7 linked regions of the Homo sapiens genome follow. The protein of the gene in region 1 interacts with the protein of each later gene in a biochemical or structural test. Each region holds a gene or a part of one and is shown in the gene's direction. Other genes may lie near its edges. The genes, in order: CARD11, DENND5A, PLCB1, NOS1AP, PTH1R, FRMPD1 and PRKACA.

Region 1 (4,431 bases):
AAAAAAAAAAAAGGCAAACCTGCTTTCTGGAGAGATCTACAGACTTAGAGCCTGACAGACAAGGTGCCCATTCCGGCTCCACTGCCTGCAATCTCGGTGACCCCAACAAAGTCACATGATGATTTTGAGCCTCAATTGCTGCACGTGTAAAATGGGTATAAAATTACCACCCCTAGCTGGGCACAGTGGGTCACACCTGTAATCCCAGCACTTTGGGAGGCCGAGGCGGGCAGATCATCTGAGGTCAGGAGTTTGAGATATGGCAAAACCCCGTCTCTACTAAAAGTACAAAAATTAGCCAGGCATGGGGGTGAGCACCTGTAATCCCAGCTACTCGGGAAGCTGAGGCGGGAGAATCACTTGAACCCGGGAAGTAGAGGTTGCAGTGAGCCACGATTGTGCCACTGTACTCCAGCCTGGCCAACAGAGCAAGACTCTATCACAAATTAATAATAATAATGATACCACCCCTAGATTAGCATAGACCAAAGTGTTTCCAAACGCACCAAATGTGTCAAGGGGTTCTGCAGGCTTCTGCTTTTAAGTTTTACTTCTGACTTGCTTATTCAGAGGCCAGGAGGGAGAACAGAGAGAGATGAGCTAAATGCAAAACAGAGTATATGTGGCAAAGAGCTATTTCCTTAATTTACTAAGAACTCTTGTAAACCAATGAGACATGGGAACTGGCACACTTTTTCTCGAAAGCTCCAAATAGTAAATATTTTAGGCCTTGTGAGCCAGAGGGTCTCTGTCGAAGCTAGCAACTCTGTCCTTGCGGGGTGGAGGCGGCTGCAGTTGGGAGTGAGTATGGCCACCTTCGGCACAGTGGATGGCACAGGACTGGACCCTCAGTGGGAGTGTCCAGACCCCAAAATTAGAGAATTCAACCAATGGAAAAAATGGTGAAAGGGTACAAACACACGGAATATGAGCAGGTCAGTCAGCATGCTTCGTTTGTAATTAAATCCATGTGAAGTAATACAACAGGGACATAGCGTTTTCCACCTGTCAGACTGGCAAACATCAAAAAGTTTGATAGGCCAGGCGTGGCACCTCTCACCTGTGATCCCAACACTTTGGGAAGCCCAGGTGGAAGGATCACTTCAGCCTAGGAGTTCGAGACCAGCCTGGGCAACATAGTGAGATCCCACCTCTACAAAAAAACTTTAAAAAATTAGCCAGGCATGGTGACACACACCTGTAGTAGTCCCAGCTCCTCCAGAGGCTGAGATGGGAGGATCACTTGAGCCCAGGAGTTTGAGGCTGCAGTGAGCTAGGATTGCACTACTGTACTCCAGCCTGGGCAGTAGAACAAGACCCCATCTCTAAAAATAAAATAAAAAAGAAAGGTAAAACTGATTGCCCATCAGTAATAATAATAATAATAATTTTTAAAAATTAAGGTATAACACACACACAGTACAGTCTTAAGCGTACAAACAGCTTGACGGGCCTTCACATGCCCTTCTGGAGCCAATCACCCAGATCAAGATTTGGGTCCTTTCTAGGTTCTGGGGAAGTGCCATATCCCCTCCCAGTCGTTACCCCTCCCCTGTCCCCTAAGGGAGGACCCTTCCAACCTCTATCACCATCCCTGTCCTTGAACTTGACGTGGACGGAGTCACATTCAATGTTTCTTTTTCATTGCTACACAGTATTTCATGGCATAAATTTACCGCAATAGGGGCAGGCGCTGTGTCTCATGCCTGTAATCCCAGCACTTTGGGAGGCCAAGGCAGGCAGATTGCTTTGAGCTCAGGAGTTCAAGACCAGCCTGGGCAACAGGATGTAACCGTCTCTACAAAAATTCAAAAATTAGCCAAGCATTGGTGGCTTGCGCCTATAATCCCAGCTACTCGGGAGGCTGAGGCTGGAGAATTGCTTGAGCCCAAGAAAGCAGAGGTTGCAGTGAGCCAAGATCGCACCACTGCACTCCAGCCTGGGTGACAGAGTGAGACCTGTCTCAAAAAAAAAAAAAAAAAAATTACCACAATTTACTTATCCACCTGACCGTTGATAAATGTTTCTGTTGCTTGCAGTTTGGGGCTGTTATGATGAAACCACTGTGAACATTCTTATACGTGTCTTGGTGGTGATGGCCCTTTAAAAAAAAAAATCTGGAAGCAGCCTGGGCACAGTGGCTCATGTCTATCATCCCAGCACTTTGGGAGGCTGAGGCAGGAGGATGGCTTGAGCCTAGTTGTTTGAGACCAGCCTGGGCAACATAGTAAGACCCCATCTCTACAAAAAATGTAAAAGTTAGCTGGTGTAGTGGTCATGCCTGTGGGCCTAGCTCCTCAGGAGGCTGAGGTGGGAGGATCACTTGAGCTCAGGAGGTAGAGGCTGCAGTGAGCTGTGATTGCACCACTGCACTCCAGCCTGGGCGACAGAAGGAGACCTTGTCTCTGAAATTTAAAAAATCCAAGGAGGGCTGGGCGCGGTGGCTCACGCCTGTAATCCCACCACTTTGGGAGGCCGAGGCAGGCGGATCAAGAGGTCAGGAGATCGAGACCATCCTGGCTAACACGGTGAAACCCTCTCTCTACTAAAAATACAAAAAAATTAGCCAGGCGTGGTGGTGGGCACCTGTAGTCCCAGCTACTCGGGAGGCTGAGGCAGGAGAGTGGCGTGAACCCGGGAGGCGGAGGCTGCAGTGAGCCGAGATCGCGCCGCTGCACTCCAGCCTGGGTGACAGAGTGAGACTCCATCTCAAAAAAAAAAAAAAAAAAAAAAAAAAATCCAAGGGCAAGCAGAGGCCCTGTGCCGGCGTTTTCTGCGGTTTAGTAAATTGCTATGTCAGTGGATAAATGCTGCTGTGAAGTAAAACTGTAACGTTATTGACATTAGTGCTTCGTTGCCTGCCTCTGCGTAAGGATTATGTGATTCGTGGAAATCTTCTAAGAAGAAATGGCCTATTTTTAAAGGGATTCAGGTATCGTTGGTTCCGGGGGAAACGTTCAGCAGAATAATAACGATACCTCACACCGCCTTCCAAGACTCCTGACTTCAATTCTCAGACGCGTTTCAAGAAGCAGCTTGATACCCTGCGGAGAGCCTCTGCGAGCTGACATGGGGGTCCCTGTTTGCCAGTGAACAGGCACCGTGATCCCCGTTTGAGTCCCTGAGGCACGCAGAGGCTCTTGGCTCTTCGTAGGAGAGTTCTCGATCTTTGAAAAATGTTTCTCCTCCTTCTTAAAGGACGGCCTTTTACCGGGCCCTGTTCCGAGTGTTCTGAGCCCGGGGAGGTCTTAGACTGGCGAAGAGCATGACCTAGTGGGGAAAGGACCCAGCTCCGGTACAAGCAGAAGGCCGTCTGTGCGCCGGGGACGGGTCACCGTGTCTCCTCACTCATTTTATGTGGAAGTTTGCTGTAATTTTGTCTTGCTCTGTTGCCCAGGCTGGAGTGCAATGGTGCCATCATAGCTCACTGCAGCCTCAGCCTCCTGGGTTCAAGCAATCCTGTCACCTCAGCCTCCCAAGTAGCTGCGACTACAGGCATGTGACACCATGACCGGCTAATTTTTTTATTTTTTGTAGAGATGAGGGTCTTGCTATGTTGCCCAGGCTGGTCTCGAACTCCTAGACTCAAACTATCCTCCAGCCTCAGCCTCCCAAAGTTCTGGGATTACAGATGTGAGCCACCGTGCCCAGCCCTGTATCTTTCTTAAGTAATTTGTACATATATACATATTATTTTTAAAAAATTATATATGTAATTATATGTATAATTATATATTTATATATAATTGTATATAATATGTATAATTATATTTGTATAATATCTATTTATATAATTTATATATATAATTTAGTAATTATATATATACAGTTCTATTTTCTTTGACACAGAGTCTCACTCTTGTTGCCCAGGCTGGAGTGCAGTAGTGTGATCTCAACTCGCTGCAACCTCCACCTCGCGGGTTCAGGCAATTCTCCTGCCTCAGCCTGCTGAGTAGCTGGAATAACAGGTGTGTGCCACCATGCCCAGCTAATTTTGTATTTTTAGTAGAGATAGGGTTTCACCATGTTGGCCAGGCTGGTCTCGAACCCCTGACCTCAGGGGATCCGCCCGCCTCAGCCTCCCAAAGTGCTAGGATGACAGGCATGAGCCACCGTGCCCAGCTGTAATTTTAAAATATATTTTAAAGATCAACCTTATGTCTTGTGGCAGTCAGACTAATGGGCCTCGGAGGCCCTCCTCCCACTGCACTGGTGGCCCTACTTCCCCCTTCCGCCTGCCTAGGGCCTCCTGCCTCTGCGCCTGGCACTTCGCCCTGCCCTGTGCCTGAGATGATGATCCTGCCACCTGCCAAGGCCCACTCTGCACAGGCACCAGAGCCCACCTCTCTCCAATCAAAGACGCTTCTCGAGCAACTGTCTTCTCTCTCTGCTGCATCTTCCATTCTGTATTCCCTCTCTACGGGGACCGTT
Region 2 (4,431 bases), on another chromosome or scaffold:
GATCTCGGCTCACTGCAAACTCCGCCTCCCGGGTTCACGCCATTCTCCTGCCTCAGCCTCCGGAGTAGCTGGGACTACAGGCGCCCACCACCACGCCCGGCTAATTTTTTTGTACTTTTTTTTTTTAGTAGAGATGGGGTGTCACCGTGTTAGCCAGGATGGTCTTGATCTCCTGACCTTGTGATCCGCCTGCGTTGGCCTTCCAAAGTGCTGAGATTACAGGCTTGAGTCACCACGCCTGGCCTGTTGTTTATTTTTTTGAGATGGAGTTTTGCTGTTGTTGCCCAGGCTGGAGTGCAATGGCACGACCTCAGCTCACTGCAACCTCTGCCTCCTGGGCTCAAGCGATTCTCCTGCCTCAGCCTCTCAAGTAGCTGGGATTACAGGCATGTGCCACCATGCCCGGCTAATTTTGTATTTTTAGTAGAGATGGGGTTTCACCATGTTGGTCAGGCTGGTCTTGAACTCCTGACCTCAGTTGATCTGCCCGCCTCGGCCTCCCAAAGTCCTGGGATTACAGGTGTGAGCCACTGCGCCCAGCCTAATACCCTGTTTTTATAAAAAATAAAAATAATTAAGAAAGAGAAAAAGGTGACTGTCTAGGAAAGCTAGAGGACTAGTCAAATCATACTCCTCCTTGACTGTATTGAGCAGTGAAATTCGAACTTCAAAATTATCGAATGTTAACATGAAAGCACCCTTTGCAATTATATAACCTTCTGATTTTACAGATGAGGAAACTGAGGCCCTGAGAAAGTGGGAGAATATTTGTCTCCCTTGCCACATTTCATTCTTTTCTGCTACTTGAGTGATATTTTGCATGCTTTGCAGACCTTTGATGAGTGGTGGATGCGGGGGGAACAAGCAAAAAATTTGTCTGGCAGGGCAGGAACAGACGTTATGGTAGTTTTTTTCTAGTCCAGGTTTCTGTTTCATGGTAAGAAAGAATACTGTGTGTGCAATAGCAAGACTTGGAACCAACTCAAATGTCCATCAGTAAGAGACTGGATAAAGAAGATGGCACATACACATCATGGAATACTATGCAGCCATAAAAAAGGATGAGTTCATGTCCTTTGCAGGGACATGGATGAAGCTGGAAACCGTCATTCTCAGCAAACTATCACAAGAACAGAAAACGGAACACCACATGTTCTCACTCATAAGTGGGAGTTGAACAATGAGAACACATGGATGTAGGGAGGGGAACATCACACACTGGGGCCTGTTGGGGGGGTGGGGGACTAGGGGAGGGATAACATTAGGAGAAATACCTAATGTAGGTGACTGGTTGACAGGTGCAGCAAACCACCATGCCATGCCATGTGTATACCTATGTAACAAAACTGTATGTTCTGCACATGTACCCCAGAACTTAAAGTATAATTTAAAAAGGAAAAAGAAAGAATACTGTGTGTACTGTGTGTAGACCGGGTACGGTGGCTCATGCTTGTAATCCCAGCACTTTGGGAGGTTGAGGTGGGTGGATCACTTGAGGTCAGGAGTTTGAGACCAGCCTGGCCAACATGGTGAAACCCTGTCTCTACTAAAGATACAAAAATTAGCCGGGCCTGGTGGCACACACCTATAATCCCAGCTACTCGGGAGGCTGAGGCGAGAGAATCGCTTGAATCTGGGAGGCGGAGGCTGCAGTGAGCCAAGATGGCGTCACTGCACTCTGGCCTGGGCAACAAAGTGAGACCTTGTCTCAAAAAAAAAAAAAGAATACTGTGTGTGTTGGCTGGGCGCGGTGGCTCACGCCTGTAATCCCAGCACTTTGGGAGGCCGGGGTGGGCGGATCACAAGGTCAGGAGATCGAGACTATCCTGGCTAACACGGTGAAACCCTGTCTCTACTAAAAATTCAAAAAAATTAGCCGGGTGCGATGGCGGGCACCTGTAGTCCCAGCTACTCAGGAGGCTGAGGCAGGAGAATGGCGTGAACCTGGGAGGCGGAGCTTGCAGTGAGCCGAGATCGAGCCAGTGCACTCCAGCCTGGGCAACAGTGTGAGACTCCTTCTCAAAAAAAAAAAAAAAAAGAATACTGTGTGTGATTATCATTAAGGATATCTTTTTTTTTTTTTTTTTTAAGAGACAGAGTCTGTCTCTGTTGCCCAGGCTGGAGTGCAGTGGCACAATCATGACTCACTGCAGCCTCGACCTCCCAGGCCCGTAGCTTTATTGCTTTATCTTTTTTTATAATTTCATATTTAAAGAAGCATTGAGGGCTAGACATGGTTGCTCACGCCTATAATCCCAGCACTTTGGGAGGCTGAGGCAGGTGGATCACTTGAGACCAGCCTGGCCAACACGATGAAACCCCGTCTCTACTAAAAATACAAAAATTAGCCGGGCGTGGTGGTGGGTGCCTATAATCCCAGCTACTCAGGAGGCTGACACAGGAGAATCGCTTGAAATGGGAGGCAGAGGTTGCAGTGAGCCGAGATGGCGCCACTGCACTCCAGCCTGAGTGACTTGGTCTCAGAAAAAAGAAAAAGAAGCATTGACATGAATAGAACAAAGAACTCCAGTATATCTCTTAACCAGATTCACCGATTGTTAACATTTTGCCCCATTTGCTTTATCATTTATGTGTGTGTCCATATATAAACAATTTTATTGAGATATAATTCGTATACCATACAGTTCACTTATTTCAGTGATTTTTAATTTATTTTTACAATTAGTTTTACAATCACACTACAATCCATTTTGAAATGTATTAATCACTCTCCCCTGAAAACCTGTACCCATTAGCAGTTACTCATCATTTTCTCCCAACCCTCTAACCCTGAACCCTAGGCAACCACTCATCTACTTTCTATCTCTATAGATTTGCCTGTTTTTGACATTTCATATAAATGGAGTAATATGTGTGGTCTCTTGTTACTGGCTTCTTTCACTTAGCATAATGTTTTCAAGGTTCACTCATGTTGTAGCATGTATCAGTTTGTCATTCCTGTTTATGCCAGAAAAATATGCCATGGTATGAATATACAACATTTTATTTGTTTATCCATTAGTGGAAGGACATTGGATTGTTTTCTTCTTTTTTTTTTCTGAGACAGAGTTTCATTCTTGTTGCTCAGGCTGGAGTGCAATGGCGCAATCTCGGCTCACTGCAACCTCCGCCTCCCAGGTTCAAGTGATTCTCCTGCCTCAGCCTCCTGAGTAGCTGGGATTACAGGCATGTACCACCACGCCTAGCTAATTTTTGTATTTTTAGTAGAGACGGGGTTTCACCACGTTGGCCAGGCTGGTCTTGAACTCCTGACTTCATGATCCACCCACCTTGGCCTCCTAAAGTGCTGGGATTACAGGCACAAGCCACCGTGCCCGGCCTTCAGTTTTTGATTGTTTTGAATAATGCTATGAACATTTGTGTACACTTCTTTTTTTGTGTGTAGGCCTATGTTTTCATTTCTCTTTGCTGAATACTTAGGAATGAAATTACTGGGTCATATAGTAACTGTGTTTAACCTTTTTTTTTTTTTTTGAGATGGAGTTTCGCCGTGTTGCTCACGCTGGGGTGCAATGGCGCGATCTTGGCTTACTGCAACCACTGCCTCCCGGGTTCAGGCCATTCTCCTTCCTCAGCCTCTTGAGTAGCTGGGATTACAGGTACCCGTTACCAAGCCTGGATTTTTTTTTTTTTTTTAGACGGAGTCTCACTCTGTCGCCCAGGCTGGAGTGCAGTGGCACAATCTTGGCTCACTGCAACCTCTGCCTCCCGGGTTCAAGCAATTATCCTGCCTTGGCCTCCCAAGTAGCTGGGACTACAGGTGTGCACCACTATGCCCAGCTAATTTTTGTATTTTGTACTAGAGACAGAGTTTCACCATATTAGACAGGCTGGTCTCGAACTCCTGACTTCATGATCCACCTGCCTCTGCCTTCCAAAGTGCTGGGATTACAGGCGAGAGCCACTGCGCCAGTCAATTTTTGTATTTTTAGTAGAAACGGGGTTTTACCATGTTGGCCAGGCTGGTCTCGAACTCCTGACCTCAGGTCATTCACCTGCCTCGACCTCCCAAAGTGCTGAGATTACAGGTAAGAGCCACCGCACCTGGCTGCCCGACTAATTTTTAATTTTTTTGTAGAGACGAGGTCTCACCATCTTGCCCAGGCAGGTCTTAAACAACCTGAAAAATGATACTCCCGACTTGGCCTCCCAAAGTGCTGGGATTACAGGCGTGAGCCACCGCGCCCGGCCGTGTTTAACCTTTTGAGAGACTGCCTGCCAGTCTGTTTTCCAAAACAGCTGCACTAGTGTACATTTCCAATAGCAGTGTATGAGAATTCCACTTTATTCATATCCTTACCAATACTTATCTATTGGTTTATAGCCATCTTAGTGGCTGTAAGTGGTATCTCATGGTTTTAATTTGCATATCCTAGAAGACAAAGATTTTTATTTTTATTATTTTATTTT
Region 3 (4,431 bases), on another chromosome or scaffold:
TGAATTTCAATAGCTGCATACTAAGCATATTTCACAATTCGCTAAAAACTTATTTCTATTCCCTAAATTTCTTTTGGAAAATATTTTAAAAACAGAATTACTAACGTTAAAAGATGTGAACAGTTTAAGTACCTTTATGAATATTGCCAAATTGTCTGTAAAAAATGTTGTGCTACATTACTCCGCTGTCAGCAATGTTTAATATGACGTGGCCTCTCATTTGCGATCTTGGTTAAGTATTATCGTTAAATAATAATAATAATTAAACCAGACAAAAATGTGTTATTTCACTGTTATTTTAAATTCATTTCTTGAATCATTATTAAGGTTGAACTTTTTAAAATATGTTTCTTGGTTTTTGTATTTCTGCTTTTATGAATTACATATTCAGGACTATCGTCAATTTTCTTGTTGATTTATAACAGCACTTTTTATTTAAAGGGTATATTGTCTTTTGTGAAACAGAGACAATTCAGTGGATCAGGTCAGGCTGATTAATGTTTAATTAAAAGTTCTTGGTTTACTTGTATGATTACAGCCTCCTCACCCCAGGATGAAAGCCTTGTGCTCCCATTTTTCTCATGGTTTCTTTTTTATTTAACCTTTTCAACCATCAAAATTTAATTTTGGTCCATAGTCTCAGTGAGATCAATCCTTTTTTTTCATCCTAAACAATCATCCCACTGAACTGGAATTACACGTTAATAGATACAGCCTTTTTCATTGTTGTTGTTAATTCAGACCCATTTTTTCACTTTGTATCTTTTCCATTAATAAATTTGTCTGCCTTCCTGGATGCAATAACTCACTGTTTTTACTGTATTTTATAATATGGATTAATACCTGGAAGTGGTGATTCTCCTTTACTACTATTAATTTTCAATTCCTTTTTTGCCATTGCCAGTGGAATTCTTATTTCAAATAAACTTAATTTAACTGTATTATGTTTTCCTTGACTACTAAAAAAAAACTATTTTTAAAATCATATTAACTTTATAAATTTATCTGACAAAAACTGACACCTTTTTAATTTTTAGTTTTTCTGTCACAGGAAAAATGCTTTTCTCTTTACTTTAAAATTTTTTGTATTAAGTCCTCAGCAAAATCACTTGTCTTCATTAGAGGTCTAGTTTTCTTAGACTGAATCTTTCTTTTTATTTATATTATATTTTTAACAGATTGTTTCTGGATATTTATATTTGTATATTTGTTTATTTTATAAATGATTGTATTTTACAAATGATCATCTTTCTAAACTCTTATAATAGCCTATTTTTTGCAGTACATTCCGTTGGAATTTTTAGACACACAAAGACAGTAATTTAATCATATCTCATTTCTCCACCTGCCTTATTTATTGCTTTGGCCTTACCGTTCTCAGGTATTAAATGAGGGTTCCGAGTGGGCATCTTTCTTTTTTATTCAGTAGGAAGTTCAACATTATGCCTTTTATTAAGTATCTATCAAGCTCTAAGCCACGATTAAGAGTAATTTGCTAGATATTTATGGCTTTTTAAAATCAATTAATTTATTTTTATTGATACATAATAGCTGTACAAACGTTTGCAGTACGTATGATAATTTAATACATTTATATAATCAAATCAGAGTAATTGGGATATCCATCACCTGAAATATTTATCTTTACATTAGAAACAATCGAATTGCTGTCTTCTAGCTATTTTTAAATGTACAAACTATTAATGTTAACTATAGTCACCTCCTTGTCTATCAAACACCAGGTCTTAACGTCTTCTATCTAAGTGAAGAGTGGGCATCTTTCTCTTCATCCTGATCCTAATATAAGTTTCACTGTTGTGATATCATCAAGTCAGATATTGGCTGTGACTTTGAGTCAGATATTCTTTAACATACTAAAGGACACGGGTCCTATTTGACTAATGTTTTAGAAGTTGGTATTGAATGTTATTAAATGTCTCTTGGACATCCATTGGGATGATCATATGTTCATTTTTCAGACATAAATGTGATAAGTTATCTTAATAGATCTCATTTCCTAATATATAATTATCCTTTTGTTCCCAAAATAGGCTCTACTTATTTGTTGTGTATTATTTTTAGAACATATGACTTGCTAATGTAATTTTTAGGCTTTTGAAGCTAATTTTTTCAAGTGTCATAAATTCATTATTGTTTTGAAATTTTGTCCAATTTTGACATCATAGTTATGTTTATAAAATAATAGTTTAATAAGAGAAAATTTCACTGATTTTTTTCTGCTCTAAAAATGATTTGTTAAATGAAACTTTAGAATAATTCTGCCATCACCTCTTTATTATGCACATAGAGATGAGTCATGACACAGATAATCTGGAACTGTTGACAACTTCCCAGATTCTTTACAACTTTAATATGTATTCTTTCACTCTATCAGTTGCAATATGTGTGAACGTTCATCTGATGCACTGAGTCTGAGGAAAATTTTGACCAGTAACCTTTGTCCACTGGAAAAGAGTCTATGTAGAATTAGATGTTAATTGTAAGTAATCACAGAAGTGCAAATTATAAAAAAGAAATTTTTTGTACAAATTAAAAAGCAGGAAAAGGAATAATAGAATCCTCTTTTAATGAGGCATGGAGAAGTCCATTCTCAAAAACATGGCTTAGTAGTATAAGCTGGTTTAAGCTTTCTGAAGGGCATTTTAGCAAGGCATCAAAGAAAAATTTTCCAATGAGGACATCATTTGTCCCAGGAATTCCTCTCATAAGAAAATCACTGATCATGGCTTCAAAGATTTCACCACAATGATGTTTATCAAAACATTATAAGGGTGAAAAATTAGAAAAAACATAAATGTGCCCAAAAGGGGAATGGTTAAATACATTATATTCTAATATATTGTATTAGATATTATATTCTAATATATTGTATTAGATATTATATTCTAATATATTGTATTAGATAGTGTATCATATTAGAAATTAGATATTAGAATTAGAAATTAGAAATTAGATATTAGATATTGTATCATAATATTCTAATATATGCTTTATATATTAGAATGATATATTTAATATATCATTCTAATATATCTAATATATATTAGAATGATATATTTAATACATTAGATATTAGATATATTAGAATAATATAAATAATATATCTAATATATGTTAGATATTAGATATTTTGTATATACTATATTTATATATAATTATATATTATATATTAGATATATTATATTATATTAATATTTAACATATATTATACAAATATATTATTCTAATATATTTAATCAAAGGAATTTGAGACAGCTGTTATAATTAAGGCAGATACATATTAAATGAAATCAATATACTGTATGTCAACAATATATTTGAAGTGGAAAAGCAGACTGCACACCCACCAGTTGGCAGTGATTATTTCTGGACTTGGGGATTAGAGGTAATTTTTTTCTTATCTGTGTTTCCTGCATTTCTACAATGACTCTCTTCCAAGGGAATACAGTCACAAAAGTGGACTGGGATCAACTTTACTTTACAATCTTACTTTCTTACCCCAAGTATAGATAAACTCACAATAAGGCTTGTGTTTTTGATACTCAGACCTGGCTATGCAAATAAATATGGGGATGTATGAATACAACGGGAAGAGTGGCTACAGATTGAAGCCAGAGTTCATGAGGAGGCCTGACAAGCATTTTGATCCATTTACTGAAGGCATCGTAGATGGGATAGTGGCAAACACTTTGTCTGTTAAGGTAGGTATACCCCATCACAAAATTGTTCCTAACAATAGTGTTGAATTTATCTACATTGCATAAAGAAGTGGCTTAGTCATTAAAAATTTAGTAACTAGGAAAGATTCTACTTTCTTCCTACATTTTTTTTCTCTAAAGATCAAATACACATTAAAAGTTTTCGTAAGGGGTCCGTGTGTTCTCATTGTTCAATTCCCATCTATGAATGCACACGGGAAGGGGAACATCACACTCTGGGGACTGTTGTGGGGTGGGGGGAGCGGGGAGGGATAGCATTAGGAGATACACCTAATGCTAAATGACGAGTTAATGGGTGCAGCACACCAGCATGGCACATGTATACATATGTAACTAACCTGCACATTGTGCGCATGTACCCTAAAACTTAAAGTATAATAATAATAATAATAATAATAATAATAATAATAATAATAAAAGTTTTGGTAGGGTCGGGCGCAGTGACTCACGCCTGTAATCCCAGCACTTTGGGAGGCCGAGGCAGGTGGATCACGAGGTCAGGAGATCGAGACCATCCTGGCTAACACGGTGAAACCCCGTCTCTACTAAAAAATACAAAAAAAAACAATTAGCCGGGCGTGGTGGCGGGCGCCTGTAGTGCCAGCTACTCAAGAGGCTGAGACAGGAGAATGGCGTGAACCTGGGAGGTGGAGCTTGCAGAGAGCCCAGATCGCGCCACTGCACTCCAGCC
Region 4 (4,431 bases), on another chromosome or scaffold:
ACAATTACGTAAGATGTAGCTGGATTAATAGGTGGGTCTTCTTGGCATCTTTCACACATTTGAAATAGACCAAGTATAGCAAGCTTGGTTTCTCTACGCGGGGGGGGGCTGATTTCAGTTTCCAGCACGAGGTCAGCTCTTACTTGTTCTGTCAGACTCTATTGCCACCAAACTGCAAGGCTTCTGTCTGTCTTTATTAAACTACCAGCAGTCCCCAGAATTCCAGTGAGTAAAACTATGACCTCAGCCTTTCAGGTGGGAATAGTTTCCTTCTCTCGGAGAGCATCCAAATCCTCCTATGTTGTTCCTGGATAAAAATCTAAGGATAAAGACAGTTTCTTGCAGACAAGTGTACCCTTGATGTCACTTGTTGCACTATTTATGTCGTCCCCCCCCCACCACCCCCATTTCTTCCCACAGACTAGTCTAGTTCTGCTGTTGCCATGGGGACCAGGCTTAGGTTTCCTTCACAGTGTCCTGATTTGGTCTAAGACCGCAAGACCTCTCCCAGCCTCACCCTAAATTGGTTCTGAGCTGGTCTCAAAGGGGCCCGCCCTGACCTTAAAGGTATATGGGCAAAGGTGGTATTCAACCAACTCTTAAGTATTTCCGGGTTAGACCTCAGTGGGTAAGTAGTGAATACCCAAGTCCCTCTGACCGCTCTTCCGACCCAGCATGAGGCTTGCCTGGCTGCACTAGCTTCCTGCTTTTAGGTGGACCAGAAGTTCAAGGGTGTGAATGAGAGTATAGCTAAGCCTCGAAGCGAAGCTGGGATGTAGCTGGCACCTGCATGGCCATGGGCTGGGCCGACATAGTCTCAGAACTGATCTGGGCACTGTGGCTGATTGGCAAGTGTTAAGTAGGCCAGGTCTATTCACAGTTTGCCAATTCCCAGCCTTTTTCCTGAGGAAAGTGTTAGTACAGTTCAGTATTGCTATTTAAAGATTTCTCCTCTACCTGCTGCCACTTCTGTTTGTTCAGGAACAAGGAATTGGTTATTTATGCTTCGCAATCATGTATGCTGTAGTTAGAGGAACAGTGCTAACAAAACTCCGCATCCCCACCCCAGGCCCTCTATTTAGCATATGTCCCTGTGGCTTCTCCCAGTCCCCAGCACGCTGGCATGCACTGCCCAAGTCCCTGCCATGTGCATGCTGAGACAGCGGCGCCTGCCTCTGCTTCTGTGTCCAGTGTGTGGTGGGGCAAATTGCTCTGGTTCTCTCCACTGCCATTTCCATGTGCCTGCTACTCCCTAACTTCAGCCTGGCCCTGCCCTCACTTCTGATGGAGGAGCTGGAGTCCAGGCAAGTAAGCTGGAGAGTGAGGGCGCCAATGGTCTGGTGTGGCTGGGTGGGTTGAGGGTGGGTTTCAGAGTTTGGGAAAGCAGTGTAGAGCTGGAGGGTGCAGGGCTGAACTTTTGTGTGTCATGATGAGGCCAGAGTGCAGAGCTGGACATCTGAGCCCTGGCACTCGGGACGTGGCCGTAGTGTCACATCACTCTGTGCCACATCACTGACTTAGTATGTAAGTACAACATTCATTGCCAAAGACAACACAGTTCTGCAAAGGAGACACTAATTTGTACCTTTCCAGAAAGAAATATGGTCTACTTTTACAAAAGGGGCTTAATTCTTTGAAAGAAAAGCATGCTAAATACAAAAAAAAAATCCCATCTGGTGGGGAGGAGGTGGTGCTCTCTGCCCCTGTTGTATGAATGGGGAAACAAAGCACAGAGGGCTGTAGCAGACTGCCCAAACCAAGGTTTCACGTAACGCTGCCTCGTTTCAGTGCTTCAAGTTCGAGCCTACATAGTTATAAAATGCTGCACCTCAAAGTTAAAAGAAGTCCAGGCTATTTTGTCTCAGTATGGCCTGGTTTGGGTTCTCCTGCAGCACAGCCTGCCACAGCTTGAGGTTTGAGCCTTATGCCCAGTACCACTTTTGACAGCTGCAGAAGCAGAGGGCTCATTAGTGCTGGCTCAGGCAGTAGCAGCAGTGGGTGCTCACATATTCACAGGACTTGAAAATACCTGAAATAGTGTAACTGGGTTTACAGAGGTAAAACTCTTATTTAATCTGGTACAAGGAGCATTTTCTCATGGCACTTGGTGCCAATGGATCTGCGATGGGAAGCATTTGAGTCAAAGGTCTTCTTCTAGGTATTGCTGGTACTCCACCATTGAACTTGGGTACCTGCAAAAAAAGCTTTCAATTTTTTTCCTGGCTTCTGTAAGAGGGGACTTTTCCTTCACCCTCAATTCTAATTCTGACTTCACAATGGGGAACTGAGAGTTTTCTTCAATGAGCCATTAACAAATTGCCTCCAGTACTGACCACAATGTCAACCTGGATGTAGAATTATCAACTGTCTCAGCCTCAAGCCAGTCCTCTCGGTTGACAGATGGAGAAACTGAGGTCCAGAGAGAAGTGAGTTGTCTACAACTGCCTAGGGAGTACCCAACAGACAAGCACTCCAGCTCCTGGTCTGGTGCATTCAAATGGCCTGTCCTGTTGGGATGTTCAGACTGGAAAGCAGGAAACTGACTCTGGGCTGGGCATGGTGGCTCACACCTGTAGTCCCAGCACTTTGGGAGGCCGAGGCAGGTGGATCACTTGAGGTCAGGAGTTTGAGACCAGCCCGGCCAACATGGGGAAACCCCGTCTCTACTAAAAATACAAAAATTAGCTAGGTGTGGTGGCGGGCGCCAGTAATTCCAGCTGTTTGGGAGGATGAGGCAGGAGAATCGCTTGAACCCAGGAGGGAGAGGTTGCAGTGAGCTGAGATCATTCCACTGCACTCCAGCCTGGGTGACAGAGTGAGTCTCAAAAAAAAAAAAAAAAGAAGAAAAAAGAAAGAAAGAAAAGAAAAGAAAAGAAACTGACTCTGCAGTATGTGTGCAGAGAGCCCTCAATAAGTGCCAGTTAGAGGTATGCAGGATTCTCTACTTTCTTTGTTTATATCTGCTGAAAGACTTTGTTCCACATTTCTCTCTGGTTGGTTTGGTTCCAAAGAAAATGGAAGATGAATAATTTAGTAATTTTATTTGCTCAGTAGGTTCCTTTCGATGCCACTCTTTGTTGGGATAAGTAACGGTACTCATAAGTGCAAGATTAAGCTTACCCTTCTCTGAGGCTTATCTGTGGGCTTCCCATAGCAGTTGTCCTGTTCCTTAGAACCAAATAGATTTGGGGGACCCCCAGCTGAAATTTCTCCATGCCTCCCTTTCCAAAGAGGAGAAAACCTTAATAGCCACCCACCATCTGACATCCAGATTACAATATTATTGACATTTCTTTCCCTGTTGAGTGGATATAGGAAGAAACAAACTCAGTTTCTTCCTGCTATACTGTCACAACATACTTCTATGACCAAATGTATGGGGCTTTTTCCCACACACCAAGCAAGCAAGCAGTTCTGCAGAGGGCACACAGTGTCCTCTAACTCAGTTTGATTCTGATACTATCTACCTGGAAACAGCATCAGATCCCACAGTTTGAGGGCTCAATCCCACAAGACTTTCCCCCATTTCAGACACCAATCACAAGTAATAGTTTGTCACCTACACCTCTGACCAAGTGGCTATAAATTGGTGTTCCCACTACCCTCTCCTTGGACTCAACTGATTTGCTAGAGCAACTGACAGAACTCAGGAAAACACCTACATTTACTGGTTTATTTTAAAGGATATTATAAGGGATACCAATGAACACCAGATGGAAGAGATGCATAGGGCAGGGTCTGTGGGAAGGGTGGCAGAGCTCCCATGCCCTCCCAACGTGCACCACCCTCCAGGAACCTCTAAATGTTCAGCTGCCCGGCAGCTCCCCACACCCAGTCCTTTTGAGTTTTTAATGGAGGCTTTATTATGTAGGCATGATTGATTACATCATTGGCCACTGGTGATTAGTTTAACTTTTAGCCCCTCATCTCCTGGAGGTTGGGGCGTGGGACTGAAAAATCCTATCCTCTAATCATACCTTGGTCTGTCCTGTGAGCAGCCCCCATCCCGAAGCTTCCAGGGGTTCCCCAACCACTAATCATCTAATAAGCATACAAAAAACACTCTTACCACTCTGGAGATCTCAAGGGTTTGGGGAGCTATATGTCAGGAAACAGGGATGAAGACCAAACATGTATTTCACTGTATCACACCTGTTCTCACCCCTCCCCAGATCTTCTCTCAATTAATATGAGACAAAAAAATGAGTCTGACTTCTTGACCAAAATATCAGTTCTGTCCTTAGCAGCTTTATGGAGGACAGATTTAGTTTAAATTCCTTAGGCATTATGCCCCTGTGGCTCCACTCAATCAGAAATAGGGTCAACGGCAAGGTCAGGGCCTCCAATCTGGGCAAGAGGGAGGCAGCCACGGTATCCACAAGTGTAATTCTCTGAGTGCTGGTTGCTGGGAGGGGCACACCCTGGGCCAGC
Region 5 (4,431 bases), on another chromosome or scaffold:
GAGGCTACATACCATAGGAGGCAGCCCTGAAATCACAACCTCCCTCCCCAGTAACGGAGGATGTGGGCACACAAGGAGGGAGGGGAGTGTCCTTTACACCAGGCAGAAGAGTATGATCCTGGCAGAGGAAGCAGCAAGGACAAAGGCAGGAGAGTGGATGTGTGAAGAAGACCAGGAGTCTAGCAGACAGTTCCTGTTAGGGAGAGTCATTTTTGGAGGAAACTGTCTCAAATAGCACAGCCCTTGAACACCAGAAAAAGAAATGAGGGCAGTGGGCACAGAGAAGGGAGGCAGCCATAGAAATGCATGGGGAGGGCCAAGGCTGGTGGTTCATACCTGTAATCCCAGCACTTTGGGAGGCTGAGGCAGGTGGATCACTTGAGGTCAGGGGTTCGTGACCAGCCTGGTCAACATGGTGAAACCCCGTCTCTACCAAGAAATGCAAAAATTAGCCAGGTTGGTGGTACACACCTGTAGTCCCAGCTACTTGGGAGAATCACTTGAGCCTGGGAAGCGGAGGTTGCAGTGAGCAGAGATCATGCCACTGGACTCCAGCCTGGGTGACAAAGTGAGACTTTGTCTTGAAGAAGAAGAAGAAGGAGAAGGAGAAGAAAGAAGAAGAAAGTAGCAGCAGAAGAAATACATGGGGAATGCACCTGGGAGTGCAGTCTGGAAGCTGGATGGGCTTGAGCCAGCAGAAGGGTGGCTGCAGCTGGATCCTAGGCCTTAGGACTTGGGCTTGACAGATTTGCACTGAGGGTTGGAGGGCAGGTTTGCAGGCTCCGAGGAGCTCAATATCCACAGGCTGAGTCTTGAGAGCCCCTGGAGCCCATGGGCCAGGATGCCCACCCTCGTGGAAACTAAACAGTAAAGTTAACATTGCCCTTGAATCAGCTGGCCAACCTCTCCATTTTGCAGATGAGGAAACTGAGGTCCAGACAGCCGAAGAGTGGTAGTGTCCAGGACACACAACTGGTAAGCGGGCAAGCACAGGCTGTTGCTTAGCCCAGACTCATTTCCCAGGGCCTCATGCATTCGCTTCCTCCGCGATCCTTAAAGCCCTGCGCTCCAGGCATCCCCAGCCCCTCCCTCTGCCTCAGTTTCCCCACTTGGTACCGGGAGGTGGTAGGTTTGGGGTCGAAGGGCCCCTCCTCTTAGAGCTCCAGCGTGCCCTCCCCAGCCAAACACAGAAATCCCGCCCCGTTCAGCCCCAACCCCCGCGGACTCCTCCTTGCCTTCCCCTAAGTCGAGGGTCCCAGGCGGCCCGGTCCGAGCCGGCCGATAGCTTTTGGGAGTGGGGGTGGGAACGGGGGAGGGAGGTGAAGCCTGAGAGTGGGTGTCTGGATTGAGCCCCAGGTCTGGCAGCCTCGAGCCTCCGGGGTTGGGGCTGGGCAAGCTGGAGAGGCCCGGCCAGCAGCTGAATGGGTCGAGACTCGGAGACCCGGACCCGAAGAGACGCTGGGCAGGGAGGGAGCGGGATGTGTGGCTGCAGACCTGGGCGGGGGTCGGGGCTGGCCTAGGGCCGAGAGGAACGACAGGCCTGGGATGGGACTGAGGGCAGGGGACGAGGCGAGGGTGGGGCTGGACGTGGGGGAGGGCGGCAGCAGCCAAGCCGGGCTCGGGGCTGGCAGCCGAGCGGCCTCCCCAGGGACCCCGACCCGGCCCGAACGGGAGCCCAGTGGACTGACAGCGTCGCGGCCGGGGGCGCGCGGGGGTACCGGGCAGCCTCCTCAGGGGATTCGCCCATGATGAAAGAGGGCTCGCTTCTCGGCTCAGGGTCTCTATTCGCCAGCGGGGGCCGGATGATCAAGGGAAAAAAAATTTAAAAGCCCGTGCTTTCCAGAAGAGAATGAAGCGGCGGCGGCGTCCCGGGTTCCCTGCTCGGGTCTCGATGTTACAGCTGCCCCCGCCCCGTCTCCCCAGCACTCACATCCCGCCGCCGTAAGACTCCGGGCCTCGGCCTCTAGCGCAATGTCCCGGGGCGGGGGGCGGAAGGCTCCTCTCGGCCTCTCCACACTCCCGCGTCGGCGGCTGCGGAGGGGGTGGGGGCGGGAGAGGCCCGGGAGGGCGCGGGGGAGGGAAGAGGCGCCCGGCCGGGGAGAAGGGGAGCGGCAGACGCCGAGGCGAGGGATGCGCGCGGCGGGCGGTGGCTCCGAGCGGCGGCCGGGCGGGGGGCGCTGGAGGCCAGGCCGGCCAGCGGGGGGTATCCCGAGAGCTCCATGAAGTCCCCCCGGGGCCGCGGACGGGGCGCTGGCTTGGGGAGGCTGTCGGGGGGGCCCCGACATCCATGGCAAGGCGGGGGCCGCGGCGGCGCGCTCGGAGTAAGTCGGGGCTGGGGACCCGCGCCGAGGGGAAGTGGCCGGAGTCGGGGAGGAGCGACTCCGGGCCTGGCCGGAGCAGCCAGGCTGCTCTGTCTCGGTGTCAGTCGGCGGCGCCTCCTCGGAACCCGGGGGAGTCGCCAGCCCCGCGCCGCTCGGCTCGGTGGCTTTTTTGGAAACTTGCAAATGTTTTCGTAGAGAGAAAAGGGGGAGGGAGGGAGCGAGGGAGTGACCGAAACGGAGCTTGGGGCCGCTGGAAGAACTGAGGCCAAGGCCGGGGGAGCTAGAGACGGACTGACAGACAGGCAGACCGACAGAGCGTCGGGGCCGCTGCGCGCCCGAGCCGCACAGGCGCAAGCGGGGCTCTGGCCAAGGATGGGGAAGGGGTGCGGGAGGCGGCTGCCGAGGGTCTGGGATCTCAGGAGGCCGAACGGCCGGGGGCTGGCGGCCGGAACACCTAAGGGCTCAGTGTGGCTGCAAAGTTGAGATCGCACCCCCTAACTGCACGCCCCGCGCGGCTCAGAACGCGCCCCCTGCCCGGCCCTGACTCCCTACGCCGAAAGTCGCGGAGCTAAAAATAACAGTCCTGCGCGCCCCCCGCAGACCGCGACCCCGACCCCTCCCCCGCCCCCTCCCCCCACTGGGCGTGGGGCGAAGCCACAGCTCCCATTTCCCCAAAAGAAAAAAAAAGAAAGAAAGAAAGAAAGAAAGAAAGAAAAGGCGGCGCGGGAGGGGGGCGGGGGGCGGGCCGGGGGCGGGGGGCCCGGCCATATGGATGTGATTTCTTCGCTCCGAGGCAGACGGGCCGCTCCGCAGCGCTCGGCGCCCGCCCGCCGCCCGCCCGGCCTCCGGCTCTCCCTCCCTCCCTCCTGTCCCTCCCTCCCTCCCTCCTTTGCGCTGCTCGCTCGCTCGCTCGCTCGCTCGCCCTCAGCGCATGGGCCCCGCGCCGGGCCCCGGGGCCTCGGGCCGCCGGGACGCCGGGGTCCCATAGGCCGGGGCGTGGGCGGGGCGGCCAGCCTGACGCAGCTCTGCACCCCCTACCACCACCAGGGCCGGCGGCGGCGGCTGCCCCGAGGGACGCGGCCCTAGGCGGTGGCGATGGGGACCGCCCGGATCGCACCCGGCCTGGCGCTCCTGCTCTGCTGCCCCGTGCTCAGCTCCGCGTACGCGCTGGTGAGTCCCCCGCCGCCAACACTCCGGGACAGGCTGCGGGCTTACCCTAGGGTCCGCGGGATAGGTCTAAGGCACGCAGTCTTGAGTTCCCCCAGTAGTTCGAACTTTGGGTGAGAGTCCCCTCTGATCCAGGATCCTGGGTGCCTGCTGTCTCTGGGATGTCTGGACTGTGGGTTCCAGCTGCCTGAAGCCTCCCTATTTCTGAAGCCTCGTTTGGGGTCCCAAATCTGGCAATTTGTGGTTGAGTTTTCACCATCCTCTGCTTCTGTGAGCACCATGGCTGTTTCTCCCTGGAAGATGACAGTGTGACCCAACAGAAGGCTGGGCTTTGGCCCTGCTGCGTACTCCCACAGACTTTGCTTTGGGGACCTCTGTTTTCTGCAAGTTTTGTTGCAGTCCCGGACACAGGGAATGTAGGTCTGAGGTCAGAATCATCCAGGCAGGGGGTAGGATTTAGGGGCCCCCTCCAGCCCTCACACACACACATGCACACGTCTGGCTTCACCCAGGGTAGAAGCTGTTTCCCCAAGGAGGTGGGTGTGGTGTGGCATGGAGAAGGGATGGAGTTCCCTGAAGGAGACTGACCTCACAGTGCACCCCTGTAGGAGAAGCACAGCATATCCTGTGGGGAAGTGAGGAGACCCCTGGAAAGACTGTCACTCCCTGAGAGTGACCTAAAAGCAGAATGGTAGGGAAGGCTAGAGGGAGAGGAGAGACAGAGACAAAGCCGGGTGGGGAGGAGAGATCCCCCCAGCTGGAGGGGTGGACAGACTAAGAACAGCAAAAAAAATAGGGAGACAGGCAAAGGCAGAAAGCTGGAGACACAGAGTGGGCAGCACCTCCTCCTCCTGGGCCAGGGTCTGGGGCCCACTTGCTGGGAAGGGGGCTGTCCCAGCCCCTCAGTCCTATTCCACAGCAACCCCATCCCCTGGGACGAGCC
Region 6 (4,431 bases), on another chromosome or scaffold:
CAACAGTGGGAATCAGGGAAGGCTTCCCAGAAGAGGGGGCAAATGGGCTGGGCCCTGTGGGAGGGACAGAATTTACAAAAAAGGAAAGGGCTTGACAGGAGTGCCCGGCAGAGCGAAGTGGCTATGTCATCACTGATCCTGAGGCTGCATTAAAGGAGGCCTTGAAGCAAGAAGAACCAGACAGACAGGCCGTCTGTGGCCCTGCAAGGCCTTCTGGGGTCCAAGGGACCCTGACATCAGAAGGTAGGGGATCTGGTGGCTGTGTTTCTATCAGGTTCCTCATACATTCCTCCACCGAGAGTGTGGAGGGTCTTTCCAAGCAGAACTGAGATCCTGGCAGGACACACACACACACACACACACACACACACACACACACACACTGCATTCTGAAGGAAACATATTGGAAAAGAGCACATGGATGTTGAAGGTGACCTGCCAGGAGCTGGGAGAGCTGCAGCCCTTGTTCCTGTCTCGGCACTTTCCTGCTGCTCTCTGATCCTCTATTCCCAGACCTCCTGTGCTCTCCCACTGTTCTGGAGAGAAAGGCCAGCTCCTCTGGGAGCCCCATCAGGCCCTTTGAGGCCCTCTGTGACATGGCCTCTGCCTGTCTCTCTCCCTCCTCCTGCATTCCTGCCATACAGACCTCCTTGCCACTTTCTACAAGTGCCTGTTTTTTCCCCCTCCTCCAGCCTTTGCACATGCTGCTCTTTCTGACCGAAACACTCCTCCCCAGATCGTGGCTGATGGTGCCCATCCGTCTATCAGATTCCGGTTGGAATTCACTTCCTCAGAGAACATTTCCCAGGCTTCCCAGGCCAGGGCAAGTCTCCCCATCTCTGTCACATGTTCTTGCATTACCTGGGGCTCTCCCTGTCTGGCACCTCGCACAGCCTGTAAATTACATATTTACTTGTATGATTCTGTGTTGATGTTTCTCTCCATCACTAGACCGAGAACTCCTTTGAGCGTTAGAACTGTGTGTTTCTCACTGTGTCCCCAGCACACAGCGTCTAGCAATTGTTGTTAAATGAATGAATGAAGTCTCCACCATCTACACTGAGTTCAATTGACTGTACCTCTAAGGAAAGGAGAAACCATGGCCAGACTCCTTACTGCTCCCCAAAGTACCCAGACAACCACTTTCCATGCCCCAGCCTTGCCCTGCAGGGCCAGCCATTGTGCCGGGGGGCAGGATGGAAGTGTGGCAGAAACCATCAGTCAGGGCCCTTTTATGGGAGTCTAGTCAGGAACATATGGGGTTCATACCAGACACTGTTTTGTTTTTGTTTTTGTTTTTTATAGGGAGCCAGTGTAGTGCTGAGAAAAGAGCCAGAACTAGGATTCCTCAGCCTGGGTTCTGATTTGGCCCCTGACTGACTATTGGAGCCTCTTTGTCTTTGGGACTTAGAAACTCCTTGGTCGGTGGCTGTCAGTAGCCTAGGGCAGTCAAATGTGACTGGGCATCAGAATCACCTGAGGGACCTTGTTTAAAAACTATAGATTTGGCCGGGCGCAGTGGTTCACACTTGTAATCCCAGCACTTTGGGAGGCAGAAGCAGGCAGATCACCTGAGGTTGGGAGTTTGAGACTAGCCTGGCCAACATGGCAAAACCCCATCTTTACTAAAAGTACAAAAATTAGCCAGGCATGGTGGCGTGCACCTGTAATCCCAGCTACCCAGGAGGCTGAGGTAGGAGAATCACTGGAACCTGGGAGGCAGAGGCTGCAGTGAGCCGAGATTGCACCACTGAACTCTAGCCTGGCCAACAGAGCAAGATTCTGTCTCAAAAAACAAAAAACAAAAAAACCTAAACCTTATAGATCCCTAGGCCCTAGCCTCAGAGATTCTGACTCCTCAGAGATTGTGGGGAGCAGCCTAGGACTTGATAAGGTTTCTAATAGCATACAGCCAGGTTAGAAATGACTGGTCTGACTACCCAAGCTCTCTGATTCTCAAGTGCTAGGCTCTGATCCTAATTCCTTCTGGCTGATTCCCAAGGGTTCTTTACAATAGTGCCTCTCCTCCCAGAAAGATCCATCCTGGGATGCACAAAACTCGATGCCTGTGACAGAGTTGTGGCCCCTTTACATTCAGACATGAAATGGCAATAACGAGCAGCTTCCTTTTAGTGAATACCTAATGAGGCAGAGGCCTTGTGCTGGGTGCTTTATAAAAATGCACTAATTCCTTTAACCTGCACGGCAGCACTGAATGGCACCATTGGCACTAAAAGACTTGGGTTAACATCAGCACAAAGAAAAAGTGTTAGGAAGTAAGATTGTTTATAGAATTGCTGGCAAGCCTGAAGACCTGGGTTCAGAAATAGACAGCAACCAGGCTAAGAGTCTAGTCACAGGATTCCCTACCTGTATTATCAAGCTATTGTGGTTGGAAAGAATGGCTCTGCTTTTTTTTTTTTTTTTTTTTTTTTTTTTTTTTTTTTTTTAATGTCTTTGGGTTTGGAATTCTGGAGAATTTGTAGCTGATTGGCTGGCGTGGACAGAGCATCTTCGTGAACAGTTCCAGCAGACTCTAACCATTGGGGAGATGTCATTCCCTAAACAGAAGTTGAGATGCTGTGACCAAAAGATAATTAAATGGATCTTAGGCATCCAAAAATTTAATAATGTCTATCACAGCTGGGTGCAGTGGCTCAATCCTATAATCCAAGCACCTTGGGAGGCTGAGGTGGGAGGATTGCTTGAACTCAGGAGTTCAAGGCTGCTGTGAGCCGTCACACCACTGCACTATAGCCTGGGGGACAGAGTGAGACCCTGTCTCAAAAAAAAAGAAAAAAAAAAGTCGGCCAGGCGCGGTGGCTCATGCCTGTAATCCCAGGCCTAGGTAGGCGGATCATTTGAGGTCAGGAGTTCGAGACCACCCTGACCAATATGGTGAAACCCCATCTCTACTAAAAATACAAAAATTAGCTGGGCATGGTGGCAGATGCCTGTAATCTCAGCTACTCCGGGGGGATGAGGCAGGAGAATTGCTTGAACCTGGGAGGCAGAGGTTGCAGTGAGCCGAGATCACGCCACTGCACTCCAGCCTGGGTGACAGAAAGAGACTCCGTCTCAAAAAAATAAAAAAAAATCTGTCACAATTATTATCCCCATCTTTCAGATGAGGAAGTTGAGGAGATCAGGATTGAACTTGCTCAAGGTTACACAGCCTAGCCAGAATTTAAACCCAGGAAAGCCCAAGGCCTGAGCCCAAGCTCTATTAACCTCTTTTTTTTGTGCTTTTTAATGTATTTTTTCTTTCCTGACTCCCAGGGCCCAGAGATGTTTCTACTGCAGAACCCAGTGCCACAAGCTTGCAGAATAAGGCCAGCACTTCTAGCCCTGAGAACAGCCTGCCTTGTGGGCCAGATGGAAGACAGCCAAGCAGGAGGGGAGGGGTGAAGAAATATGCCAAGACCCTGAGGAAAAGAAGGTCTTTCCTACAGACCGACTACACCTCTCAGGTCTCATTTCCCCTGGTGCCATCAGCCTCCCTGGAGAGTGTAGACGACGTGTGCTACTATGACAGGGAGCCCTACCTGGCCCTTGGTGCACCCTCCCCAACTGTGTCCTCTCTGCAGGACATGCAGGGTGAGCCTGGCCTTCTGGAGACCAAGGCCTTGGGGCTGCTGGCTCCTCTGAGGGAGACCAAGAGCACAAACCCAGCCTCCAGGGTCATGGAGATGGAGCCCGAGACCATGGAAACCAAATCAGTCATCGACTCTCGAGTGTCTTCTATTTCTGCCATTCGCTTCCGGATTGACCCCAACAATAAAGAGAATTCTGGTGTTGTCCCTGCTGCCAGCTCCTCAGCAAGCACTCCTCACTGTTCTAACCCAGGTTCATCTGGCCCAGATACTGCTCAGGCAAGGCCTTCCCAAATCTTACCTCTATCTCAAGACCTGGATGGGATTGCCCCCAAAGAACCAACCATAGAGCATGGAGACAGCTCCTTCTCCCTCTCCAGTGGTGACCCTAACCCAGACAGAGCCTGCCTGGCCAGCAACCCAGGACTAAATAATGTCTCTCAAGGAGACACACTAGAGCTCCAGTTGGAGCCCCATGTCCAGTTGGAAATGGGATTGGAATCTTTTTGTACAAATCATATACAAGAAACTGCCCCCAAATACACAGAGCCTTTGTTGTCTCCTAGAGATGAGCCTAGAAGTGATGAATGTGGAATAAATCCAGGAGAGAAGATAGCTTCTATCCCTACAAAGGAAGAGCCACAAGGACAACTATCTCTGGAAAGAGACAGAGAAGTTACAAACAAAAATGGCACCAACGTATTTCAGGAGGAGTCTAGGAAGGATTCAGGTGACTCCCCGGGTGATGTGTCAAATAATGTTTCACAGACTCTTGATATTAGCTCTCCAGCTGGTAAAATAGTAACCTCCCTTTCTTTAGATGCTCCTGTAACAGGGA
Region 7 (4,431 bases), on another chromosome or scaffold:
GTGCCCACAGGTGACAGACTTCGGTTTCGCCAAGCGCGTGAAGGGCCGCACTTGGACCTTGTGCGGCACCCCTGAGTACCTGGCCCCTGAGATTATCCTGAGCAAAGTAGGAGCCTCCCCAGCCCTCCCCTTCCCCTGAGGCCGGCTCTGCTCTCCTGCTCTCGCCTCCTCCTCACCCTGTGCCCCCCCATCTTGCTCCAGGGCTACAACAAGGCCGTGGACTGGTGGGCCCTGGGGGTTCTTATCTATGAAATGGCCGCTGGCTACCCGCCCTTCTTCGCAGACCAGCCCATCCAGATCTATGAGAAGATCGTCTCTGGGAAGGTGAGGTCCGGATGTGGGGACACAGCCCTGGAAGAAACAGACCGTTCCCTGCTCACCCATCCTATTCCCTGGGGAGCCCTGCTTGTTGTCAGAATAATCTAGAAGTTCCTTAAGTCAGGCCAGGTGGTGAAGCTGGACGCGCCGGCCACACTGAGGCCAACACCTCAAGCCCCCTTGCTGTCCAGCCCCAACCCCGCGGTTCCAGAATCCCATGGGCTTCCAAAATCCCGAGCCTCACGGGAACATCTTGGCCACAGAACACAAACCGCCCTGCCAGACGACCCTCCTTTTCGCTCCTCATCCCAGTTAGTGTGAGTTTTCGCAAATTCCAAGGCAGAAAAACGAATGTATTTGGTTCCTGTTCCCAGGTGCTGTCCATAGCCTCACCCAGGATTGCCCTCACTTAGCATTTATAGCCCATGCTTCCTCTCCCAAACCCAGACTTGCCTAACTCTGAGGGTTCAGATGAGGGGTGGTGAAGCCATCTCAGCTCACATCTATGACAGGTGCAAAGTGCCCACCATCCACCAGGCCCCAGAATCCCCATCAGTCACACCCTGAGATAGTGGCACCCTCTGTAGGAGAGGTGAGGAAACAGGCTGGGAAAAGGGATGTGTCTTGGCCAAGATCACACTTTGGTGAGTAGGTAATCACCGTAGGCAATCATTGTAGGCACTGATGGCCGGAGAGAGGTTGGGGACCCCACCTCTGCCCTCAGCTCAACCACCTTGCTGGGAAGACCCGACCATCCCCCGACTTGGTCCAGCATCTCCTACACAGGAGCTTTTGGTTGGCCCGGAGTCATGACACTGTGGTGGGAGCACCCTCAGGCTCAGCCTGGGCCCCAGTCCCAGCTCTGCCACCGACTGGCTTTGAAACTTTGGGGCTGGGTACAATGGCTCACACCTGTAATGCCAGCACCTTGGGAAGTGGAGGCTTGAGGCCAGGAGTTCCAGACCAGCCTGGGCAACATAGCCAGACCCCATCTCTAAAAAAAAAAAAAAAAAAACAAACTGGCCGGGCGCGGTGGCTTACACCTGTAATCCCAGCACTGTGGGAAGCCAAGGCGGGCAGATCACCTGAGGTCGGGAGTTCGAGACCAGCCTGACTAACATGGTGAAACTCCGTCTCTACTAAAAACACACACAAAAAAAATTAGCTGGGTATAGTGGTGGGCGCCTGTAATCCCAGCTACTTGGGAGGCTGAGGCAGGAGAATCACTTGAACCCAGGAGGCGGAGGTTGCAGTGAGCCAAGATCACACCATTGTACTCCAGCCTGGGCAACAGGGCAGGACTCTGTCTCAAAAAAAAAAAAAAAAAAAAAAAACTAAAAATTAGCTGGGCGTGATGGTGCACCCCTGTGTTCCCAGCTCATCGGGAGGGTGAGGCAGGAGGATCGCTTGAGCCCAGAAGTGAGCTGTGAGCTGTGATTGCATCACTGCAGTCTAGCCTGGGTCACAGAGCCAGACCCTGTCTTTTAAAAAAATTCAGGCAAGTGGGGTGCCCCAGCTGGACACATAGCATCACTAAAAGAGAAAGATGAAGGCCAGGCGCGGTGGCTCACACCTATAATCCCAGCATTTTGGGAGGCCAAGGCAGGTGGATCACGAGGTCAGGAGTTCAAGACCAGCCTGGCTAACATGGTGAAACCCTGTCTCTACTAAAAATACAAAAATTAGCTGGGCGTGGTGGCGGGTGCCTGTAATCCCAGCTACTCGGGAGGCTGAGGCAGAGAACTGCTTGAACCCGGGAGACAGAGGTTGTAGTGAGCCGAGATTGCGCCACTGCACTTCAGCCTGGGTGACAGAGCAAGACTCTGTCTCAAAAAAAGGGAAAGATGAGGCATCTGCCACCGGACCAAAAGAAACTGCCAAGAAAATGGCCCAGAGTTGGCCGGGTGTGGTGGCTCACGCCTGTAATCCCAGCACTTTGGGAGGCCGAGGCGGGCGGATCACGAGGTCAGGAGTTTAAGACCAGCCTGACCAACATGGTGAAACCCCGTCTCTACTAAAAATACAAAAATTAGCCGGATATGGTGGCACACACCTGTAATCCCAGCTACTCAGGAGTCTGAGGCAGGAGAATCACTTGAAACCGGGAGGCAGAGGTTGCAGTGAGCTGAGATTGTGCCACTGCACTCCAGCCTGGGCAACAGAGCAAGACTCCATCTCAAAAAAAAAAAAGAAAAAAAGAAAAAAAAATGTCCCAGAGTGGGAAAAAAAAGAAAGAAAAAAACACAGAAGATCCCACAGGAGAAGATGCACATGACTCCCTTCTTTGTAGCATTTTCTAGTTCCCCCGCACCGTCAGTGGTATTATCTCCCTCGTGCAGCCCTGGCATATCTGCCCCACATCTGAGAGGCATGCGCAGGCCCAGAGAGGTTAAGGGCCATGGCCAAGGTCACACAGCGTGTAAGAGGCACAGCAGGAACAAGAAGTCGTTTCTTGCAACTATAACTCCAGTGATGACTTGCATACAAGGCGTGGGCTCAGAGGGTTTGGGGAAAACTTTCAAGAAGAGTTGAGCTGGGCTTTAAAGAACGGAAGAGCCTTAGCTATGCAGAAAGAGAGGAGAGAAAAAGTTTGTCATAAGCAAGAATATTTCAGAAGTCTCCAGACCCCAGCAGAGATGCCTTAAGCAGCAGCAGCAGCAGCTGAGAATGCAAGTTCTAGAGTCCAGTAGACCTGAGATGGAATTGCCCCATCACACACCTCAATGTGACCTAGGAAGAGCTGTTTAACCCAAGCCTCAGTTTCCCCTTCTCTGAAATGGAAATCATCATAGCACTTGCCTTAGAGCAATGGTTCTTAAAAGGGACCCCTTTCCAGCAGCACCATTGCTGGGGAATTTGTTAGAAATGCAGATTCTTGGGCCAGGCACGGTGGCTCACACCTGTAATCCCAACACTTTGGGAGGCCAAGGCAGGTGGATCACCTAAGGTCAAGAGTTCAAGACCAGCCTGACCAATATGGTGAAACCCCGTCTCTACTAAAAATACAAAAATTAGCCAGGTGTCTTGGCGTGAGCCTGTAATCCCAGCTACTCAGGAGGCTGAGACAGGAGAATTCCTTGAACCCAGGAGGCGGAGGTTGCAGTGAGCCCAGATCGCACCACTGCACTCCAGCCTGGGCTACAGAGTGAGGCTATTTTTTTTTTTTTTTTTTTTTTTTTTTCAAAAAAAGAAATGCAGATTCTTGCTGGGTGTGGTGGCTCACGCCTATAATCCTAGCACTTTGGGAGGCCAAAGCAGGAGGATCGCTTGAGCCTAGAAGTTCAAGACCAGCCTGGGCAACGTAGTGAGACCCTGTCTCTACAAAAACTTCTTAAAATAACTAACTCTTGAATTTTTAAAGTTTTTAAAGAAATGCAGATTCTCAGGCCACAGTATCAGACTTCCTAAATTGGAAACTGTAGGGTAGGCTCAAGGAGCTGTTTTACAAGATGCTGGCAGGCACTCTGCTTTGGAGGCCCACACCCAGTAGGACCGTTGGATGGAGAAAGAAGCATCATGGGCTTCCCAAGTTCCAGACCAGCTTCCCACCCTGTCCTTGTACCCCTTCCTCCAGGTGCGCTTCCCTTCCCACTTCAGCTCTGACTTGAAGGACCTGCTGCGGAACCTCCTGCAGGTAGATCTCACCAAGCGCTTTGGGAACCTCAAGAATGGGGTCAACGATATCAAGAACCACAAGTGGTTTGCCACAACTGACTGGATTGCCATCTACCAGAGGAAGGTGGGCCTCCCCTCCTTAAGCCTGCTGAGGGTTTGGGAGCAGGCCAAGAGTCAGGGAGGACAGCCAATAGAGAAATAGAGAAGAGAACACAGGTTCAGGAGCAACCTAGAGTAGAGAGCTTAGAGCAGTGGGGTCTAGAAATGGGATTCTGGGGTCATTTGGCCATTCCATGACCTTGTGCAACAGATGCCTCTCTCTGGGAAGTAATTTCCCCTTTGATGAGTTGCTACATTAAGAGTTTCGGGCTGTTAAGAGGAATCCATAACCTAATGGTAAGCACAGGCCTGAGTCAGAGTAAATATCTCTTGAATGTTAGGCCATTCGCATTTATTGTTGTAATAATGATTATGTTGAATGCTGAGGTCTGGGTGATT

The links.
Region 2: the proteins of CARD11 (region 1) and DENND5A interact in a test that uses a peptide from one of them, tested with the Homo sapiens proteins (one large-scale study listed by IntAct).
Region 3: the proteins of CARD11 (region 1) and PLCB1 interact in a test that uses a peptide from one of them, tested with the Homo sapiens proteins (one large-scale study listed by IntAct).
Region 4: the proteins of CARD11 (region 1) and NOS1AP interact in a test that uses a peptide from one of them, tested with the Homo sapiens proteins (one large-scale study listed by IntAct).
Region 5: the proteins of CARD11 (region 1) and PTH1R interact in a test that uses a peptide from one of them, tested with the Homo sapiens proteins (one large-scale study listed by IntAct).
Region 6: the proteins of CARD11 (region 1) and FRMPD1 interact in a test that uses a peptide from one of them, tested with the Homo sapiens proteins (one large-scale study listed by IntAct).
Region 7: the proteins of CARD11 (region 1) and PRKACA interact in a test that uses a peptide from one of them, tested with the Homo sapiens proteins (one large-scale study listed by IntAct).

What each region holds. Positions count from the first base shown.
Region 1 is NC_000007.14:3,033,599-3,038,029, reverse strand, and holds part of CARD11 (caspase recruitment domain-containing protein 11), read left to right. Parts: intron 1-4,431. UniProt on the Homo sapiens protein: Adapter protein that plays a key role in adaptive immune response by transducing the activation of NF-kappa-B downstream of T-cell receptor (TCR) and B-cell receptor (BCR) engagement.
Region 2 is NC_000011.10:9,255,090-9,259,520, reverse strand, and holds part of DENND5A (DENN domain-containing protein 5A), read left to right. Parts: intron 1-4,431.
Region 3 is NC_000020.11:8,729,671-8,734,101, forward strand, and holds part of PLCB1 (1-phosphatidylinositol 4,5-bisphosphate phosphodiesterase beta-1), read left to right. Parts: intron 1-3,567; coding exon 3,568-3,722; intron 3,723-4,431.
Region 4 is NC_000001.11:162,359,621-162,364,051, forward strand, and holds part of NOS1AP (carboxyl-terminal PDZ ligand of neuronal nitric oxide synthase protein), read left to right. Parts: intron 1-3,362; exon of another isoform or gene 3,363-4,431. UniProt on the Homo sapiens protein: Adapter protein involved in neuronal nitric-oxide (NO) synthesis regulation via its association with nNOS/NOS1. The complex formed with NOS1 and synapsins is necessary for specific NO and synapsin functions at a presynaptic level.
Region 5 is NC_000003.12:46,880,144-46,884,574, forward strand, and holds part of PTH1R (parathyroid hormone/parathyroid hormone-related peptide receptor precursor), read left to right. Parts: intron 1-918; coding exon of another isoform or gene 919-975; intron 976-1,851; exon of another isoform or gene 1,852-2,039; intron 2,040-2,105; exon of another isoform or gene 2,106-2,321; intron 2,322-3,368; 5' UTR 3,369-3,416; coding exon 3,417-3,491; intron 3,492-4,431.
Region 6 is NC_000009.12:37,741,110-37,745,540, forward strand, and holds part of FRMPD1 (FERM and PDZ domain-containing protein 1), read left to right. Parts: exon of another isoform or gene 1-243; intron 244-3,279; coding exon 3,280-4,431. UniProt on the Homo sapiens protein: Stabilizes membrane-bound GPSM1, and thereby promotes its interaction with GNAI1.
Region 7 is NC_000019.10:14,093,254-14,097,684, reverse strand, and holds part of PRKACA (cAMP-dependent protein kinase catalytic subunit alpha), read left to right. Parts: intron 1-10; coding exon 11-106; intron 107-201; coding exon 202-324; intron 325-3,892; coding exon 3,893-4,057; intron 4,058-4,431.